Linked DNA regions of Homo sapiens: region 2 is linked to region 1. Evidence: fine-mapped expression QTL. Tissue or cell type: whole blood. Region 1 holds a variant in brackets; the other region holds the start of a gene. All regions are shown on one strand. Distances are between the middles of the regions.

Region 1 (10,389 bases):
AAGGAGTTGGTGTTTGTGAGCAGTAAATACAGTGGTAGGTAGAATAATGGCACTCCAAAGATGTCTACCTGCTAATCCTTAGAACCTGTGAATATGCAATTTTACATGGCAAGAGAGAAGTAAGGATGCAGATAGAATTAGGGTTACTAATCAGCTAGTCTTGAGATGGGAATATTATTCCAGATTAGGTGGGTGAACCAAATGCAATCAAAAGGGTCCTTGTAAAAGAAAGATTAAAGCAATAGAGTCAGTCAGAGTCGGAGTGATGCTATGTTAGAAAGAATTGATAAGCAATTGCTGGCTTTGAAAATAGAAAGGGGGCTGGGTGCAGTGGCTGACACCTGTAATCCCAGCACTTTGGGAGGCGGATGCGGGTGGATCACTTGAGGTCAGGAGTTCGAGACCAGCCTGACCAATATGGTGAAACCCTGTCTCTACTAAAAATACAAAAAATTAGCTGGGCATGGTGGCAGGTGCCTGTAATCCCAGCTACTCGGGAGGCTGGGGCAGGAGAATTGCTTGAACCTGGGAGGTGGAGGTTGCAGTGAGCCGAGATCACGCCATTGCACTCCAGCCTGGGCGAGAAGAGCGAGACTCCGTCTCAAAACAAAAAAAAAGTAGAAAAGAAAAGAAAATAGAAGGGGCTTAGCCAAGGAATATGTGCAGCCTCTAGAAGATGAATAAGGCTAGAAAATTATCCTCCCTTAGAGTCTCTGGGACAGAAAGTAGCCCTGCCATCACCTAGGTTTTAGTCTAATGAGACTCATTTCAAACTTCAGACTTCCACAGATGTAAGATAATAAACGTGTGTTGTATTAAGCACTAAGTTCGGGGGTAATTTGTTACAATAGTAATAGGAAACTAAATGTCAAAGTGTCTTTGGTATTGGACAATGGCAAAGGCTGGAAGAATTGTGTGTAGCCAGCATTTTAAAAACCTAGATTGCAGGGTGGGGGGATGGGGGAGGGATAGCATTAGGAGATATACCTAATGTAAATGATGAGTTAATGGGTGCAGCACACCAACATGGCACATATATACATATGTAACAAATCTGCACGTTGTGTACATGTATCCTAGAACTTAAAGTATAATAATAAAAAATAAAATAAAATAAAAACCTAGATTGCCTTGAACACATTGTTAGTAGAAACATGGATGCTAACTCTGCTAGTGAGGCCTCAGAAGAAAGTGAGAGGCATGGTAGAGAAAATCTGTATCATCTTAGGGAATACATAAATCATCATAAATCATCATGAACAGACTGCTGGTACAAATATGGACATTAAAAGTGCTACGAACAGGATACAGGTGGAAATGAGGAAAGTGTTATTGGAAGTTGTAGGAAAGGAGATCATCAGTTGATATGGTTTGGCTGTGTCCCCACTCAAATCTCACTTCGAATTTTAACAATCCTCACATGTCAAAGGCAGGGCCAGGTGGAGATAATTGAATCATGGGGGCAATTTTCCCCGTACTGTTCTCCTGGTAGTGAATAAGTCTCACGAGATATAATGGTTTTATAAACGGGAGTTCCCCTGCACAACTTGTCTTGCTTGTTGCCACATAAGACGTGGTTTTGCTCCTCCTTCACCTTCCGCCATGATTGTGAGGCCTTCCCCAGCCATGTGGAACTGTGAGTCCCTTAAACCTCTTTTTCTTGAAAAATTACCCAGCCTCAGGTATGTCTTTATTAGCAGCGTGAGAACAGACTAATATGTCAGTATATGGTGGCAGAAAACTTAGCCGAATTATGTCTCACAGATATGTGGAAATATTGATCTTGGATATTTAACTGAGAAGATTCCTAAGCAAAATGGTGAAGGCACAGCCTACTTTCTTCTTGCTATTGTAAAATGTGAGAAAACAGAGAAAGATTGAAGGAAGAACTGTTAAGCCGAAAAAGAACCAGAACTTTATCTGGGAAATCCTCAACCTATCCACATTGCAAATTTTGCTATGTCATCTTTTGTCATGGTAAACGTGTCTTTTTACTTTGCAAGTCTGAGAGATTTTATCATTTCTCATATTTGAAAAGCCTGCTACATGTCTAGATACAGGAGGCCTCTATATGTTTAACTTATATTAAAATAATAGTTATACTGACTTTTAGTTGCCAATAGTTAGCCCTGATATCATTACATAGGCACTAGTATTCCATAAATTGTATGCACTTTGAATTAAAACAAAATGGTATCCTATAGGCCCTGACATATTTAATGCTGTTTCAAAAATACTCTACCATAGGGGTAACTTACAAATTCAATGATTTTGGAAAACTGAAAAAATATAGAGTGGATACAGTGTCATATAAAAAAGTAAGATGAATGAGTTAATGGCTACTGCAAAATAAATATGAAACTTGTTCAAAGGTGTTTTTGAGTATAACTCAAGATATTTCAACACAAAATATCTCAAAAAAGTTGATCAGTTTCAAAAGAAAGCTTCAGCCAAATGAAGAAATGATGTGTTAAAAAAAATTCCATGGAAAGATAGCTGTAGTTAAGCTCTCATTCTAAGTTGGTTCAACAACACTCTGTTTTCAATATTGTTTTTTTCCTCTAGCTTAGTACCCATTCGCTATCTTGCTTCTTATGAGATTTCTAGACTTTCCAAAATCATTGGCCATTTGAAGACAGAGTCCGTGTTTTATGGGTCTTTGACTTTACTATTTTTTTTTTACATAGAAAACTAATGCCAGGTGCCAATCAAACAAAACGAATTATCAAAATAAGGACGAATGATCTCTTTGCTGTTGTTCTAACATTTTAATTGTCAAGAGAGAATCATCGTTAATCATAAGTTAACATAATAGGATGATAATTATCCACCAGGCATTATTCTAAGCACTTTGTATGCATTACATTATCTGTTTCCCCTAAAATCCCTTTGAAGGTGAGCATTATTATCATGTCAGCTTTACAGATGAGAAAATTGGGGTATAGGGAGATTAAGCATCTTTCCTAAAATCACACAGCTAGGAAGTGGCAAAATTAGGACTCAAACTCAGGCAATCTGGTTCATAAGCCTGGGGTATTAATAATTCTGGTTACTCTGAAAGGAGCTTGTGAATTATCAAAATAAAGATCACCAGCTCAGATTTATTAAGTCATATTCTTTGAGTAGGCTCCAGAAACCTGTATTTTAACAAGCATCTGTAGATCATTCTGAGAGTTGAGGATCACACGAATACTAAAAATGTCAAGGTTGTAATCTTATTGAAGAAGCCTTTGGGTGTTTGCCCTCTGGTGATGCCATTATGTAATAGGCTTGAGTTTTCAATATTAGCACATCAAACTGATCTCTTGATGTCTTTGCTTAACATTAGTTTCAGCTACCAAGTGACTAGTGGAGAATATGAGTTTCAATAGCTTGATTTCCTAGTAGAATGGCTAACTACATAGATGTCTTGTGTTTTCATTTAATTATGCGTTTGTAGAAAAGGAGGGAAGAAGGGGAGGGAGGGAGAGAGGAAGGGAAGGAGAGAGAAACTTGACTGAAGGTCAGCAAAGCATTGGAAATATATCCAATGAAGTTACTTATAAAAGGAAATATTCAGGAAAATATACTTAGGTGATTTTTTTCCAATTCTTCAAATGTCACAAAAGTTGTCTTATTCTTGCTTCCTTTCATGGCAAAACCTATTCAAAAATAATTGTTGATTAAATGAAAGCCTTTCACAGAGAGTTGAAAATTTTTAACATCTTCTATTTTTAGACACTGGACATGTAAACAACCCAAAAGCTCCTGAAGTTGAAGCTCCAAAGCATCTTGCTCAACCATATGGCTGTCTGCTAGTTCAGGAGGTCTTGCATAGCTGAGTTAAAACAGAGTTAAAAAAAAACAGCCTTAATAGAACATCAATCACATTTAGAAGGGCACATTTACTCAAAATTATTATAGATGAGGTTTTTTTTTCATTGTGGAGACTATGAGCATGAGCCCTTATATTTGAAGAAATATTCAAAAGTAATATGAGCTTCTGATCTTTAGGAGAGAGTCATCTGTATAAAAAAAAGTTTGTAAACTTTCAAAGAACTTTTTTTAAAAAAGTAGACTTTATTTGCTAAAGTGCCCTCTCTTTAAAAGTATTGTAAGAGATAAAACATTTTCTACTTCTTAGATTATACTTTCATAATTTAAAGCTACAAAATATGGTATGAGAAAAATCATATGCCACCAATTAAGCTGTCCTGTAAAAATAAGCCCAGGAAATTTTCTTTATTCTCACACAGGACACCCACTCACTGGGGATGTTTTGTATTAATGAGCTAATGTAACTGTATCCGAAAAATCTAATGAATGGGTATGAGTTTTGCTTTTGATTCTCACTGTGCCTTAGAAGTCAAGATGTTTTCTTTGAACCTAGCTCCTAAGTGTGTTTCATGCCTGCTTCTCCTCCTGGAAAAAGGGAAGCACATAGATCTCAAAACTGTAAAAGGCAGCCAAAAACACTGAGATACTCTTAAATGATAGTCTCACCAGACAGGGCCAAAAGGCATATCCTGAGCCATGGCTTAAAAAAAGAACTGATTCAAGTCTGAAAGTAAAGAGAACTCTGTTTTGACATAGGGAAAAGGCAAATTATGCAGAGGCAGGCTTGTTGAAATCTCACTTTATGAAAATGACAGCTATGGCTGCCGCTCTCATATTTATAAAATACTTTGTTTAAACAGTTGACAATATTACCTAAGAGAAATAATGTCTTACCAAATCTCTTTCTTATTACTTTTTAGAGTATTCTATTTTGGTCTCATTGTAACATTAATGCAAGGAGCTTTCCCTTTCCAACACTATGGAAGATGTGCAGAGAAACCCTTCCTAGTGCTGAAAAGCTGACAGGCTGAATAAAAATTTAAATATGCTTTTAAGGCTTAACCAGGCTGCCTCTTCAGAAAAGGTAATGTGATGAGACCAGAAACAAGGAGAAAGGGTGCCATTGGTAAGCAAGCATGGTGTCTGGCAATTGC[C/A]CTGAGGTCACCTACTTATAACTGGTGGGCTTAGAGCCTAGGTTATCGGGTGACATGTGCAGGGGAGACAGAAAACAAAACTAGTTGTGCAAATTGAAAATGACACCACACTAATAATAGCCTTGGGTGGGGAAGGAGAGTGTTTGCACACAAAGTACCTTGTCTCTTTAAGTATTGGCTGATAATGGAGCAGGGAAAAAACACATCTCTACTGAAAATTTCTGAGCACAAGCCTCTACTTATACAGTCTTTTATTTGAAATTTATACTAACTCTGTGGCTTGAAAATCCCCAGGCAGAAACTGTATTTGAAGTGGTCCGTGTTGAGAATGCCCCAGGAGCCAGGCAGAAGCAAACATAAATTCTCACTAGGAAAATACACTTTAAAGATAAGCTTCAAATAATCACTACAAATAAAGTATCAGGGAAAACAAGTCTGTAATAAGGAAGTTATCAAATACATGAGGAAAAAAGCTGCCATAAATCATAGAAAGCAGAACTAAAGAATTTAAAATCAGACCAACAAGGACTATAAAAGCAGAAATTATTCAAAACAGAATATATGTTTAATATATATATTTAAATAAAATGTATTTGTAGCATAACAAAGAAACCAAATAAATGACTTGACCAGTTTGAAACTAAAACCAAAAAGAACTCCCAGAAATTAAAAACACAATAATTAGAAATAAAGTTTCATGAATGTATTAAATAGATTAGATAAAACTGAAGAGAAAATTAATGAACTGGAAAATATATATAAAGAAATAATACTGAATTTAGACAAAAAGATGAATTAAAATATGAAGGATAGGTTAAGACATTTGAAAGGTACTATAAGGAGAGAATAGCAATTTAGTGGCAAGGCAATATTCAACATGATAGTGGTTAAGAGTTTCCAGAATTTAGTTCAGTCACCCATCCTCTGCTTAGCCCAACAATTTCCAAGAAAGATAAATACATTTTAAAATATCTAAAAATCCACTTACAAATACATTTGGTAAAAGGACCAAACAAAGATAAATAAATCTTAAAAGCAACCAGAGAGAAAATCAGATCACCTACAGTGGAATGACAATTAGACTGACTATCAGCTTTGCTAATTGCATAACAGAAATAATTAAAGGTGGAAGAAAACAATCTTCATAGTGCGAGAAATGCTGAGAGATAAATTACTGTCCTTAGGATCTTATATTCAGGAAAATTGACTTTGAAGAAATGGTTGGTGGGGATGGAAAGAAGTTAATCTTTGAGATTTTAAAACGAACATACCTCCTATAAAATAATTTCTAAAGATGTAGTACAGAAAGAACAATTTCCAATCAGGAGTTCTAACTGCCAAGAAAGAATAGTGAGGAAAAAAACAACAAATATGTAACATGTTTAGGTCAAATACAAACAAAGAAATAGAGTGATAAACTTTTAAGTATTTCCTTTCCTCAAAAAGAATAAAGCAAAGGGCTACAAACTAACTGAAGTTATTTGCAACACATAATTAAAAACAGATGAACAACTTTGTAAATAGTCCACATGTCCTACATTTTTCTTTGATATGTTCCCAAGAGTTTGGGTTTCAGAGAATGAGTTATTTAATTGTGACTAATACCACTAGTCAGATCATTTAATATTTTAATCAATTTATAATCTTATCTGTTTTGTGTAAAGAATGAACTACATGGTTGCTATTATTTTTAAGATTTATGTTTGATATTTTTCATTAAAAGTGAATCTCAAAGTGTATTTCTTTCATAAGTGATTTTAAATATCTTACATGTTTATTTAGTCATTATTATTACCACAACCCCCTATTTTTTTGACTGTCCGTTGATGTCCTTTGCCCTTGGTTGAGGTATTAGTGTTTTTCTAATTCATTTGAAGACATTCCTCATATAGTGAGATTATGCACCTGAAATATCAAAATTATGAACCTCAACTTTGAATTCATCTTGATTAAATTACAAGAAACCATAGATTACAATAGAATTTAATGAGAAGCCATGGACAAAAAGTACTCAGCGTTGGGCTGATTAACATCCTTTTCAAACTAGTTAAGACTATTTGCATTATGGTGATCATAATAGGACAATGAAAGAACGCAGTTGGAGGGCTAGGCAGGTAAGGCAAGGACTTATTTAAAATTAAAGTATGCACGGTCTGATTTTCCATGTGATAATTAGAGCCCCCTTTTATCTGTAGACTGACATTCAAAAAGAGGCAAAATACACTCTTGTCAGATTCATTCATTCATTCATTCAAATACTTTTACTGAATAACAATCATAAACCAGGCACTATTCTGTAAACTGGGGAACAAGCAAGGATCCCTATTATTGTGGCATTCCACAATGACAAAACAGATGATTAAAAAGATTAACAAATAAAATATTAGGATGTCAGGTGGTAATATGTGCTATGGAGAAAAACAGAGCAGAGAAGGATGGTTGTTGGGAGGTGGTTAAGGTAGGAAGAATAGGGAATGTCAGCTGTGCAGCCAATAGATTGTTATTTCTTAAATCTCTCAAGTATGAAATATTTAAGTTTCGTTACAACCACTGTCTCCGATTTCATTTTCGTTTGGAAAACCTATCACTTTACGCATTTCAAACAGAAAGGGATGCTAATAGAACTACTGAAAGACCTGGGGAAGGAATGTAGGGATCCCAGGAGGAACATACCCTTGAGGATGTCAGCTGCCTGCAGCAGGCATGAGGTTGATACAGATCTCAACAAGGTCCTCTGCCCCTGCAGGTGTCTTCTGCTGCCAGAGGAGAACAGTGCTTCTCCTGTTCTCTTTCATCTAAATCTGACATAAATTCTGAATCCAAATTAAACCCTGTTGGTGGAGGATTCTGGGAACTGTCCTTTCCATGCTCCCTACTTGCATTGCAAAAGAAAGTATAGAGAAAAAGGAAGTTTACAAAGGGGCAAGAATGATGCAGAGTTGCTAACAGCAATCTGACACGGCAGCAAAGTTTGAAAATACATTTATTATCACAAATAATGCAAAAGTTTGTTTTTGCCCAATTAGTTCATACATTTATTACAGATTATTAAATTTTCCCATCTAAGTTGTAAATGAATCCCCCAGCTTTGAGATAATTAACCAGAAGTTTGAGGCATAGAGAGATAATATTAGAAAAAAAGCAGGCTAAATAATGAATAACACAGAGAGGTAGAGTTGGCACTGAGAGGAAACATAGTTCTATTGCAATTTCTTTATGATTCGATTAGGTAAGTTTAATTCGAGTGGTATGAATATTAATTCAATCAAATATATTGTATATTCATTAACTTCACACACTTAAATATTTATTCTACCTTTCCATGAGATGAATTAATATAATAAATGATATGGATATCATGAATGGATATTAATTTATCTATTCAGTCTTTCCTCACTTGATTCAATTATATTTTATTCTTTGTTAACCTAACCGCTGGTGATTTATTTATTTTTAATTTATTTTATTTATTTATTTTTTTGAGACAGAGTCTCGCTCTGTTGCCTAGGCTGGAGTACAGTGGTGTGATCTCCGCTCACTGCAACCTCCGTCTCCCAGGTTCATGCCATTCTCATTCCTCAGCCTCCCTAGGAGCCGGGACTACAGGCGCCGGCCACCACGCCCAGCTGATTTTTTGTATTTTTAGTAGAAACGGGGTTTCACCCTGTTAGCCAGGATGGTCTCCATCTCCTGACCTCGTGATCTGCCCACCTCGGCCTCCCAAAGTGCTGGGATTACAGGCATGAGTCACCGAGCCTGGCCCACTGGGGATTTTTTAAAACTGTGATCTAATCGTGGTTCCCCAGGACTTCACAGTCTGGAGGTGGACAGGAAATTTGAAAAATAATTGCAGCACAATGATACAAATGATATAGAAATGCTCAGAGGGTGCTTTGGGAACTCATAAAGGGCCATGAATAATTTTGAAGAGTTGATGTTTCAATTGAGAATTCTGTGCTGTCTAGTAATTTTCCAAATAGAAGTATAAATAGTCCAATTTTACAGATTAGGAAATTGAAGCTCAGAGAGGCTAAATGTGTGAAGTCATACAGAGTGCCAGCATAGTGACTGATGCAGATTAGGAGTTTCTAATGTTAAGATTTGTTGAATGTGTGGAAGGGAAGGGTGAGGAGTGATTTGGTGACTAGAGAATAGGGTATGAGGGTATGATTGTATTTACTAAAGTTTTCTAAGATTGGTATCTTCAAATTTCAGAAAATCAGATGTTTTTCGCTTGATTCCGATTCTTTTTAAAGTCTCATGATGTGTTTTAGGAGGAAAAGAGTAAAATTCTTACTGTAATAGTAACCTGTCAAACAATACCAACAATGAACGTAAACACAAAAATTAAGAACTTCTTAAAATCCACACATAATTAAGTTAGGTATTAGAATAAAGGGAACCAAGAAGACAAGGAAAAAGCTTATAAGAAAACATGACTGTATCAATAAACTTTAATTGTAGTTTTGTGCATTTTGATAATTCAACAAATACTATTAAGAAGCCCCAAATATTTCATATCTGCTATCCTTGAAGTTTGTCATGTAAGTCAGAGATGAAACATGTAAGAACAGACTTACTTCCAATCTTACTTGTATTGGACTTCCAATCTTACTTGTATCCCTTTTACAGAACAATATTTAGAGCCTACAGGCCATGGAAAGTAAATGGCCAATGTCCAGGCACTTTTAATGAGCTATCTGATGATATTACCTACTTTAACCACACTGAAGCGGAGGGAACATTTTTATCTCATTAGCTATCTGCTTTCCTTCTGCAAATAATGTTTGTTTTATTTTTGGAGTTAAGATGAGTAAATAAAAAAAGAAAAAAGGATTTATAGGGTAAAACTTGTCTTATCATTCAATCTTTTCACAGGTAGACAATTCTTCCAATAGACATTCTTTCAACTATACAGAATAAATACACAGACTTTGTACACTTTTTTTTTAACACATCTCTTTCAGAGGGGAAGAGCAGTTCAAGCAACAGTGACTATTAGGAACATTAATTCAAGAAGAAGCATATTCTAAATTTTTCATTTCTTTAAAAATGTTATACTTTGGTAAAAGAACAAGGGCAACTATAACGAGTTGATAAAATATTAATTAAAATAGGATTTATAACTTAATCTAAATTTTGAGTCTTTCAGTATAAACTTTATTTTTAGATCTTGCTAACTTTAACCTTGGTTTTATTACATAAGTAAGTGAAATAAATTCTTCTAAATCATTGTACCTTCTTACATTTGAAGTCTCTTAAGGATTATTTAAATTTCCTAGTAGATTGACTAGTCATATAAACCTTTGGAATTCATCTACTTACTTTTTAATTGCTGTAAGGAAAGAAAGAATGCTTTCTGTAATTTTAGGAAAAGCTCTAACTCATTTTTCAAGTGTTCTCTATCTAATTTCAGGTT
Region 2 (10,389 bases), 100 kb before region 1:
AACAAGGGCTGAAGTTCTGACTTTTCAGTTTCCTATATGTAATTCTCTGGGACAGTAAGTAATTACATATGGGAATTAACCTCTTGGAAAACCAACTTTGTTATTAAAAAAATTGAGCTGTAAAGTCCTTTCCTATTTCAAATGGATGTTGTAGCAGTCAACCAAAATTATAGAGAGAACAAAACTTTGGAAATTTGAAATTGCTTTATAATATAAAGTATCCTTACTACTTTAAAACATACATAGGCTCATTACTACTTAAGCAGATCTACAGAAAGGTATAGAAGTTTAAATCACACCTTCAAAAATATGAAAATCTGAATAAACACGGCAAAACATGGTGATGTGCTCTTTTGTTTGTTTTAATTTGCTTTGATACAATGGATATTAAGAGCATTTGTTGCATTTCAAAACAAAATGATGAAAAATGATGATGATGATGATTACTTATCCTAGAGTGATAAAAAAAATTTAGACTGATAGAATATAGACTGCAATAATATTTTTTAAAGGAGGGCTTAATATCTTTCAAGTAAATTGGGGAACGGAAAGTTTAAAAACTCTGATTCTAGAGTAAAATAAAAAAAAATCATCATTTATTAAGCTATTGTCAAGAACTATGTTAAGCATTTTGCAGACATTATTCAATGCATTACATCAGCTCTGTGAAGTATTATTTTTTCCTCTATGCAATGGAGGATTGGAAAGTTTAGGCAACTTGGAAAGTCCCATAACTAGTTTATAGCAAAGTGTTTCCTTATTTGAACCATAATGATTAATTTGTGATTAGCAAATTTAACAAGACACATTAATTTCAAAACTGGAAGTATATGCTATCCAACAGACAAAAGGTTACCGTATTTGAGTTATAGGCAGGAAAATAAAAACAAAATAATAAGACTAAAATATCATGAAATCTCTAGAATTTTTTTTTTGAAGGTAAGGATTACATCATTGCTTTTCTATCCTCAGTGCCTAAAACACTTGACTATACTCATTAAAGATAAACGTTTTATCTGATTTATTTAAGTCAGGACAGTGTACTTTCTTTACAGACTTTTAATCATTTGGGATTTTTCAGTGTTTTGGATCTATCTTCCTAATTTGTATGTTTCAGTGAGGTTAAAAAATCTAAAGTTGGGCTGGGTGTGGTGGTGCATATAATCCAATACTTTGGGAGGCCGAGTCAAGAGGATCACTTGATGACAGGAGTTTGAGACCAGCTTGGGCACACAGCAAGACCTGTCTCTAACTGCTTCCCTCCGCTGCTACCCAGAAAAAATATGGAAAGAAAGCAGAGAAAAAATCTAAAATTAAACCCAGTAATTTGACGCAATGATGAGTTTAGTCAGGGCTGATGGAAGGATAACAGAGATGGGAAATCAAGTATTTAGGTGCTTTTCTAGGATGTATCACTCCTAACTTTATTTATTTTCTACCCTGATAATTTTTTTGTCATTACTTAGAAATCATAGCCTCTTAAAAGGACTATTTGAATATTGAAATGAAATCAACAAAAAAAACTTTGAAATGGATTCAGAGGTCTCTTTTGCTTTTTCACATTTGTTATGGTCTAAATCAGAGGTCATCAAACTATAGCCCATGGATCACATGTAGCCCACTTTGTCTGGTTTGGTTGTTTGTTTGCGTTTTCCTGGTCCAAGAGCTAACAATGGTTTTAATATTTTTAAGTGGTTATATTTTTAATAGTTATATTGATTCCTACATAATATCCTCAGTTTTACCTTGGCCTGTAACACCTAAAACATTTACTATCTGGCCCTTTAAGAGAAAGTTTGCTGGCCCTTGGTCTAGACAATTTTTCTTCTTCTTAAGAGGAATTCAAAGCTTTTGTGAAATGGTTATATTGTTGGTAAGAGTGTAAGTGGATACTGAGTTTACAATGAAGCATTTTTGGCCCTTATCCACTTAGAATTTTCTGTCTGCTGTCTGGAATCTGTTACTTAGGGTTTTATTTGTCATTAAATGTTTGGCATCTTTTCCCATCCTTTCTCATGAAGGATGGATGGCCATTTCCTAGTGAAGCAAAAAAGTATAATGTAAATTTGTATAAACATCAATTTAGATAGTTTCTCAAAGACCAAAAGAAAAAATAAGAGTTTGGTACTTACTGAGACAAAAAAAAATGTTTTTCCTCTTATATTCAATTTCTTATAAAAGTTAAAACTGAAAGCATCTTGGACCAATGACTGCTTTAATATTCCCTGAAGCAGAGGGTAGGGAGGGGAGGAGGAACCAGAATCACCCAAGGAGCATTTTTCAATTACACTCCTCCAGGTTCTCCTCCCCTCTCCCCAGGCAGCAAGATTCTTTTCTGTGGAAAGCAAATGCTCTCCCAGGGAGCATTTAGTAATTACTCAGGGGTATTGGGTTGGAAACCAAGGAGCAGCTTTAATGCCCTCAGTGCAGAGAGTTCAACCATGTTCTCTAGCCCAGACACTAAACCACACCCAAGATCAGCTGGGGTCCACCAAAAGATGCTTAGACAAATAAAGAATCAACACTAACACCTGGATTACCAACACCAGTGTGACTAACACTTTTTCCCTTGCAGGGGCATAACCTTGAGGCAATTTTATTTAAGAAAAGACCAATATAACTTGTTTCATTTTTACCAGAAAAATTGTGTTGTGGATGATTGGAATTTTTATCCTTTAGACAAATTATGAATACTGTTGGAAGCTACTTAAAGATAAATTAGTAAGTTAATAAATAATTTTTTAAAGTAGAATGGAACAATATTCTCAGCTTGATTTTGCAGAGTTAAATTCTCGTCAATTGAATCTTTACATATTTGGACTTCCTCTGGGAAAATATAAGCAATATAAACAAATCTCTGGATAATTTTAACTTTTTAAAATGTCTGATACATTACTCTATAAAGTATTATTTTTCATCTCTGTATTTAACAGTGATCTAAACTGATAATGGCTAGGATATACAATCTAAATCTGGTTAAATTACATAATGACTGTTTAATCATAATAGCCATCTTTTATTCTGCTCTAAAAATTCTAAGCATATTCATTGTCATAGCATATCTACCAGCAAATTTGGGAATTTCTATCTTACAGATGCAAAAGCATCATATGGAGAATATATATATATATAGCATTTATAAATTTACAAAGGAAGTGGCTTAAAAATAATTCGGTAGTTAAGTTATACTGTTAACAATCTTTTTTTGATGTCTGCCTTGTTGATATCTGTCTACTAAGCAAAATAAAAATTATAATGGTATTAAGATGGCCAGAAAATTCAAATCCTAAAGTAACTTTTGGTGCCTATGTTCTCATTGGATTCAACCACATACTTGCCAAATCTCGGCTTCTGTTTATAATATGTAGGTAATATGCCCTGTGGATAATACAAATGGTTTCTGAAACATGAAAGAAACGCTCAGTGATACAGATCCAGGGGAAAGAAAAGTTACATTTTCGTGCTTAATATATAACCCTGGTCATTTCTATGGAAACAGATCGTTATGAGAAATCACCATCATGTAACTGCATAATAAGGCCTGTTAGAATTGATTGCTAATAATTGTAATGTGCTTAGGGAAAAACAGCATGGAAGCCTCACCTACCTGAGACAACAAAATGAAATCACTAAGTACAGGAAATCAGAGTGAATAATAACAGTGTATTCCCATCTGCCCACCCAGGAAACCCTTCCTTCCACCTTTGTTACAATGTGATAGTCTGACTGTTGCTCTAATATGAAAATCCATAAATAGGGTTTTGGAGTAGCTAGTTGGTGGTGGTCAGCTGTACCATAAGTTAAATGCAAATTTTTTGAGAGTGAGAGGAAAAAGGAGAGACAACTTTATTAGAGTGAAATAGTCAACCTGCCTGCAGACATGCTGACCCATCAGTCATTCCAACAGGTTTAAACTCTCAGGTGGGTGTGGTATTTCCGTTCACATCCCCAGTACTGGGCTCAAAGCTCCAGGACTGAAAGTAGAATGCCTCCTAGAACTGTTAAGTCTTCAACACAGTAGAAAAAAACGGGGGATAGGGGTTGGGGCGGGGGGGGTGGGCAGTGGGATTTGGGGAAAACAAAAAACTTCCAATTTTCACTTTATTTAAAAATGAATAAATGCGCTTAATTCACTGTTGCTCAAGAAATAATCTCCCGCGTGTTTCAGCATACCAAAAAGGCCTAACTTACGCCAGGTGTGTAAATCATAAAGGAGCCAAAGTCTTCCGTTTGTTTCTAAGGCCTCCGGGCGCAGGAACCTCGCGGAGGCCCGTGTGGTCCCTCGGGGCTCTGCACGCGTGGGAGCTGCCCGGCCTGCTGAGCCTGGGAGCGCCGGCAGCGCGTTCCCACGCTCAGGCCGGGTCGGGAAGCCGTGGTGACCCCTAGGGGCTCCTTTCCGCGGTTCTCGCCCTCGCAGCCCCGCCCCAGCCGCCCCTCCCCTCCTGGTTCCAGTCCCGGAGCGTGGGAGCGCAGCTGCAGCGAGCCGGGAGCGAGGCGCGGAGGCACCTCCAAGGATGCGCGCCCGCGACCCGGCCAGCAGGCTGAGGACCAGGCGAGGCGCGGGGGGCCTCCCACACTGGGCGCCGACCTGGGCCACAGCCAGGGTAGCCGGCCACTTACTTGATGTCTTCCCACACCTCGGGGCCGTAATTGCGGATCACCAGCAACTCCAGGGCGTGATTCACAAATCCGTACTGCGGGGACAGGGAGAGACTTGAGCGTCAGGGACCCGCTGTACCTGAGAAGCGGCTTGGGGGCGAGGCTGCTGCCTCTGCTCCCATGGCGCTGGCTTAACCTTTCACCCCGCCCCTGACTCCTCTCCCTTAGGGGTACTATGCACTAAAGGAGTCGGATCGTGGGGGCGCAACCCCCCAATCCCTGGTGGATTCTCCCCGTCACCATCCGCCCCACCCCCACGCTATCTTCCCACCCTCCTCACCTGTCACCGCTCCGGGAGAGGCTGGGCATCGGGGGCAGCGCGGGGACGCGAACCCGGAGCCTTCCCTTCCGCTGGCGCTCAGCCTCCCACACTGGTGGGGCCGGCCAGAGCCGGGAAGACCCCACGCCTCCGCCGCACCTCCCCTTCCCGAGCTCAGGAAGCTGCGGTGTGGAGCGGCAAACCCGCCTGGGAAGCAAAGGCACCGATCGCCCCCGCCACGACTCGCGGCGTTCCCACCTCCCCTGACTGGGCGCGGGCAAGGAGTGAGGCTGCTCCCGTGGCCGGCAGTGAGCGCCCAGGGCCCCCGAGCCAAGCTCCGGCTGCGCGGCCAGTTCCCTCGCTGCCAGGCCGGCCGAGGAGGGGTGAGGTTCGGGCCGCACCCGGCTGAGAGCACTTACCATGGTGTCTGCACCGGGAGCCGGGGAGGCAGCCCCCACGCAGAGGTACGGCCGAAGGGACCCAGGCAGAGGCGGCAGCGGCTACAGCGCAACCGGGCCGGGGAGGCAGCATCGAGCTGGAGCGAGAACAGCCGCCTTGGCCCGCCCTGATTGCCACCTCTTCCCAGCCAATGGCGAGTCGAGCCGCAGGGGGCTGGTCGGTGCTCCCCAGTTCTTCAACCAATCAGGGACAGAGGAGGGAATTCGGATGCTCTCAATGCTGCTGCGCTCCAGTGCCTTCCCGCCCCCGCCTGGTGACAAGGCCTTCATTTGAGGCCATAACAATGACAGTGGAGAAGCCCCAGCCGTGCTCCTTGCATGAATTCTGGAGCAGAGGAAATGCAGCTCTTGTGGACCCACTAAATGTATTATTATTCAGAGATCTGCCCTCAGTGGTTAACACAAGCAAAAGGGAACAGGGCGTGTTTGTTGTGTGAGCGTGTACGTGTGTACTTTGCAATGGACAGACCTTAAAAGGAATATCCTCTGTTGCTGGCATCCTCATGCTTATCTTTGTCTAGCGGAAAAACATTTCCTCTGTGGCTTGGTCCCACAACAGTTTATGGCAAATTTAAAGCTGGTAATATTGAGAAAAACATATTTTCACTTCTAGTCAATGAGACTAGTTGAGTGAAGCACCAAAAATTTTCAGTAATGTAGTTTGGTGGACGTTATGTTAAATCCAGTCCTGCCCTTTACTAAACTGTACAAGATCCAGCGATATTCTAGGCTTGATCCCTGTGGGACACCTTTCCCTACACCATGTCCGGGAGCCATAATTCCAGGGAGTTTGTAACCCTCTAGAGCGGGCCTCTGTTGCTGTTTCTTAGCAACAGACGAACTGGAAAATGACCAGTACAAAATGCACAGACTTTAACTACTCTACCTCCAGCTTACATTCTACCAGGCCCTTAGGTTAGTTAATGCTCTGAGTCCTGCCATAGAGAGAAGATGAGAGGAACAGGAAGTGGCAGCTTATTAAAGCTGTTTGTACCTGAGGTATATGGACTCCAGTTGACTTTTAGGGCAAGGTCAAAAGTGAGGTCACCAGTCTCAAGTGGACCTGAGAAGCCAGATGGTATTTTAAGATGTGCATATTTTGTTGTGAGAACAGTCTCAATATGGTTAGAGAAAAATGTCAAAACAATAAGATTGTGCTGACATCAGCACCGAGAGAGCTATGATGAAGGAAACTGATACAGAAATAGTGGCATGTAGCAAACAAACAAAACAACAAATTACTTTAAAAATTTCCATTATTGGTGGAATGAGTAAATAGATTACAGCCTTTCATACAATCTAACACCTTGTTTTAAACAACTATTAAAACATTAATCATTATTTAACAACAATTAACCACTAATTTTGAACCATTAAAATGGCACATTAAACAACCATGAAAAAGCAGGAGGGTGACTAGAAAATGATGATGCAGAAAAGTATTGTCAGGTTTACAAAACACCACAAGAATGTAATCATTTTCCATTTTTTAGAGTTAGTATACAGTAAGGTGCTATGTGGGTAATAACACAGGCACATACATGTTGCTGTAAGAATAATGGTTTGGGAGGAAACACAGGAAGTGTTGATATGGCTATCGTCTGTAATTAGAACCAGTGGCTGGAATGGCCATGACTCTTACTTTTTATAACTTTCTGTATCTTTTGATTATTTTTCTACACAGATGAATTTTCTTTACTGTTACATAACTGAATTTTTTTTAACTTTTATTTTAGTTTCAGGGGCACATATGCAGGTTTGTTATATAGGCCAATTACATGTCTTGGGGGTTTGGTGTACAGATTACTTTGTCACCCAAGCACTAAGCATGGTACCCAACAAATAGTTTTTTGATCCTCACCCTCTTCCCACCTTCCATCCTCAAGTAGGCCCCAGTGGTCATTGTCCCCTTCTTTGTGTTCATGTGTACTCCGTGTTTAGCTCCCACTTGCAAGTGAGAACATGTGGTATTTGGTTTTCTGTTTCTGTTAATTTACATAGGATAATAGTCTCCAGCTCCGTCCATGTTGATGCAAAGGACATGATCTCATTCTTTTTGATGTCTGCATAGTATTCCATGGTATATATGTACCACATTCTCTATCCAGTCTACCACTGATGGACATCTAGATTGAGTCCATGTCTTTGCATATAGTGAATTCACATATTAATTCACATATATTCACAAGTATTCATTTTGTGAATAGTTTATTTCATTCCATGTGACTAGTGCTGTGATGAACGTATATGCATGCATGTGCCTTTATGGTAGAATGATTTATACTCCTTTGGGTATATACTCAATAATGAGATTGCTGGGTCAAATGATGTTTCTGTTTTAAGTTCTTTGCGAAATCACCAAACTGCTTTCCACAATGGCTGAACTAATTTACATTCTCACCAGCACTATATAAGAGTTCCCTTTTCTCTATAACCTTGCCAGAATCTGTTGTTATTTGACTTTTTAATAATATACATAAAATAACTTTTAACTTGCTAAAAAAACTTAAAAAAAAAAACTATGTCTCTTATCTGTTCACCTTTGAGCAGCAATGGACCCATGCTCTCTGGTTTACGGTGTGTTGTGGTGTCCTCCACCTTAAACTTTACATAGGCAAAAGATAAGGAGATTGAATTGTTCTCTGGGAATGAAAAATGAGGAAAGCTCACTTAGAGAAAGATATGAGAGGAAATGAATAATGAGCATTTCTGCCAATGTCCCTTTCTCTCTGTCTCTTTCTCTCTATTTCAGTTCTTCTACCCTCACTTTCCCTTTTGTCCAATAACTTTTTGCACTTGTTGTTGTTTTTGTCCAACACATTTTTGCATTTGTAAATGTTTTTACTGTTTTATTTTCCAATTGTCTTATATTCATTCTGAATCTAAAAGAAGTTCTAGACACTAAACATTTACTGACTTTTGTTTGGCCTACAAGATATTACACAGGCTGTGATGTTCAGGGACAGAAGGATGCCTGCCAGCTGTAGAGGATCTCAAAAGAGGGGTCACCATTCTTCTATAAAAGCTCCCTACCTGTTGTCATCACTGCTGGCCAAGTAGCATAGGAATCATATCAGGAAGTAGATTATGCTATATTCTCTGAACAATGCATTGCATTCTTGTATGTATGCCCCAAGCTGAGGAGGATCAGTTAAAGATGAAAAAGAAGAGCTTAGGGAATGGCTTAGCCAGCCCTAAAATCAACATGAAGTTCAGTCTAATGAATGAACAATAAGTAAAAAGGCAATATGTGGCTTTCAGAAATGTCAGCTGAAGTGACTCACATTTTCAGCGAATAAAAATAAATTACTTTGGTAAGTTAAGTATTAAAAGTATTGTAATCGGCCGGGCGCGGTGGCTCACGCCTGTAATCCCAGCACTTTGGGAGGCCGAGGCGGGTGGATCACGAGGTCAGGAGATCGAGACCATCCAGGCTAACACGGTGAAACCCCGTCTCTACTAAAAATAACAAAAAATTGGCTGGGCGTGGTGGCGGTCTCCTGTAGTCCCAGCTACTTGGGAGGCTGAGGCAGAAGAATGGCGTGAACCTGGGAGGCGGAGCTTGCAGTGAGCCCAGATTGCGCCACTGCACTCCAGCCTGAGTGACAGAGCGAGACTCCGTCTCAAAAATAAATAAATAAATAAAGTGTTGTAATCATTGTTTTCAAGGCTTTGCTAGTTAATGTGAAAATTAGAAACCTTTGATTAAGGATAAAGGAAGATACATATATATTTGGGGGTGTTCCCAGGTCTGTGCATGTGTTTGTCAAAGCTCTGGTGTTTTGCCAGTTTTTTCTGTGGCTTCCATTTTTAGATCATTTTATGGAGCAGCATGTCATTTCATTTCAACTATTTCTTATACAATGATTTGCTTTATATTCATGTGCCTCTTTAATCTCTGTGGCTAAGAGCCGAATATTGATTCTTTGTGAAGCTTCTGCTGCTGGTCTTGGTTAGTCGCACAATAATCACATCTGTTGTCATTATTTTTGCTAATATAGTCACTCAATACTTCAAGCAAGGAATTCAGAATACTTACAAGCAAAGAGAAAAGCAAATTCTAAATGACACATTCGGTGATGTGATTCTAGATCAATAGAACAAAGAGAGATCCAAGAATTCAGATTCCTAAAGAAGTGACATTCAGATTTATTGTTAACTTGCCAATGAACTGTAAGTTTTGTCATATGAAAAAGGTAGTATTGAATATTAAAAGAAGCACTTTTTAAATTACTTTTTTCTACATCAAATTCTTTTAATATTTACCTTGCCATCAGAACTTATAAACAAAAAACATTAGTCATGCATACATATATATGTATATCCATTTATTTATAAGGTTTAAACAATTATGTATGAAAATTAAAAGAAATTAAAAGAGAATTAAAGATGATGCTTAGTATCAATGTTATAATAAGTAAAAGCATTAAGTTAAATCAACACATCACTATAACATACTGGGAGTATATGAAATTAAATAAAAATATGTTTCATTTTCAAGAAAAGCTTATGAATACCAGATTGAGCTATAAAGTTTTGCTTCTGAAGTCAAATTGATTAAAATAAAAACTAACTTGTTTTCATCTTCTTTACAGCCTAAGCTTGTACATGGCTGGGAGAGATTATCTTAATCTTTTTCTTTAGTTTATTAAGGATAGATCTAACATGATTATGTCAAAGATTGATTGACTTTGAGCACTGAAAGGTATTTTGGAGGTCATTTAGTCAATGATATTTTCCTATATCTGGAAATCTCTTTATGAACTTGTTGGGGAACAGTGAAAACTTAAAATCTTAGCCAAGAAGTATAATTAGTAAAGTTATGAATTGTTGTCCTCAGAAAGTGTGGAGGATATTAAGATTCCCATCAAAGTAGAGCTAAATATACTTTCTTTCCCATAGTCTCGCCCAGTGGAAGTTGGAATCTAGATTTCAAAAGCTGTCCATAACTCTCAAAAGCCTCTAGATACTATATTAAAATAATGTTCTTCTCTAGTCTATGTTGAAACTACT

The links. PIP is the estimated chance that this variant, and not a neighbour inherited with it, causes the effect.
Region 2: GUCY1B1 starts here. The variant in region 1 is fine-mapped to the expression of GUCY1B1 in whole blood (TOPMed, PIP above 0.99).

The regions. Positions count from the first base shown.
Region 1 is chr4:155,653,515-155,663,903 of GRCh38, reverse strand. No RefSeq gene overlaps it. Among named protein-coding and RNA genes, the nearest start is that of GUCY1A1, 8.1 kb to the left of the region's middle. The variant C/A (reference allele first, on the strand shown) is at 4,971.
Region 2 is chr4:155,754,092-155,764,480 of GRCh38, reverse strand. It overlaps GUCY1B1 (guanylate cyclase 1 soluble subunit beta 1), which reads right to left and starts at 5,460. Exons shown (of 14, transcript NM_000857.5): 1 at 5,338-5,460; 2 at 4,621-4,694. The coding sequence starts at 5,340. It overlaps LOC105377506 (a long non-coding RNA gene), which reads left to right and starts at 6,066. Exons shown (of 8, transcript XR_007058484.1): 1 at 6,066-6,291. RefSeq lists silencers at 4,413-4,682, 5,133-5,282.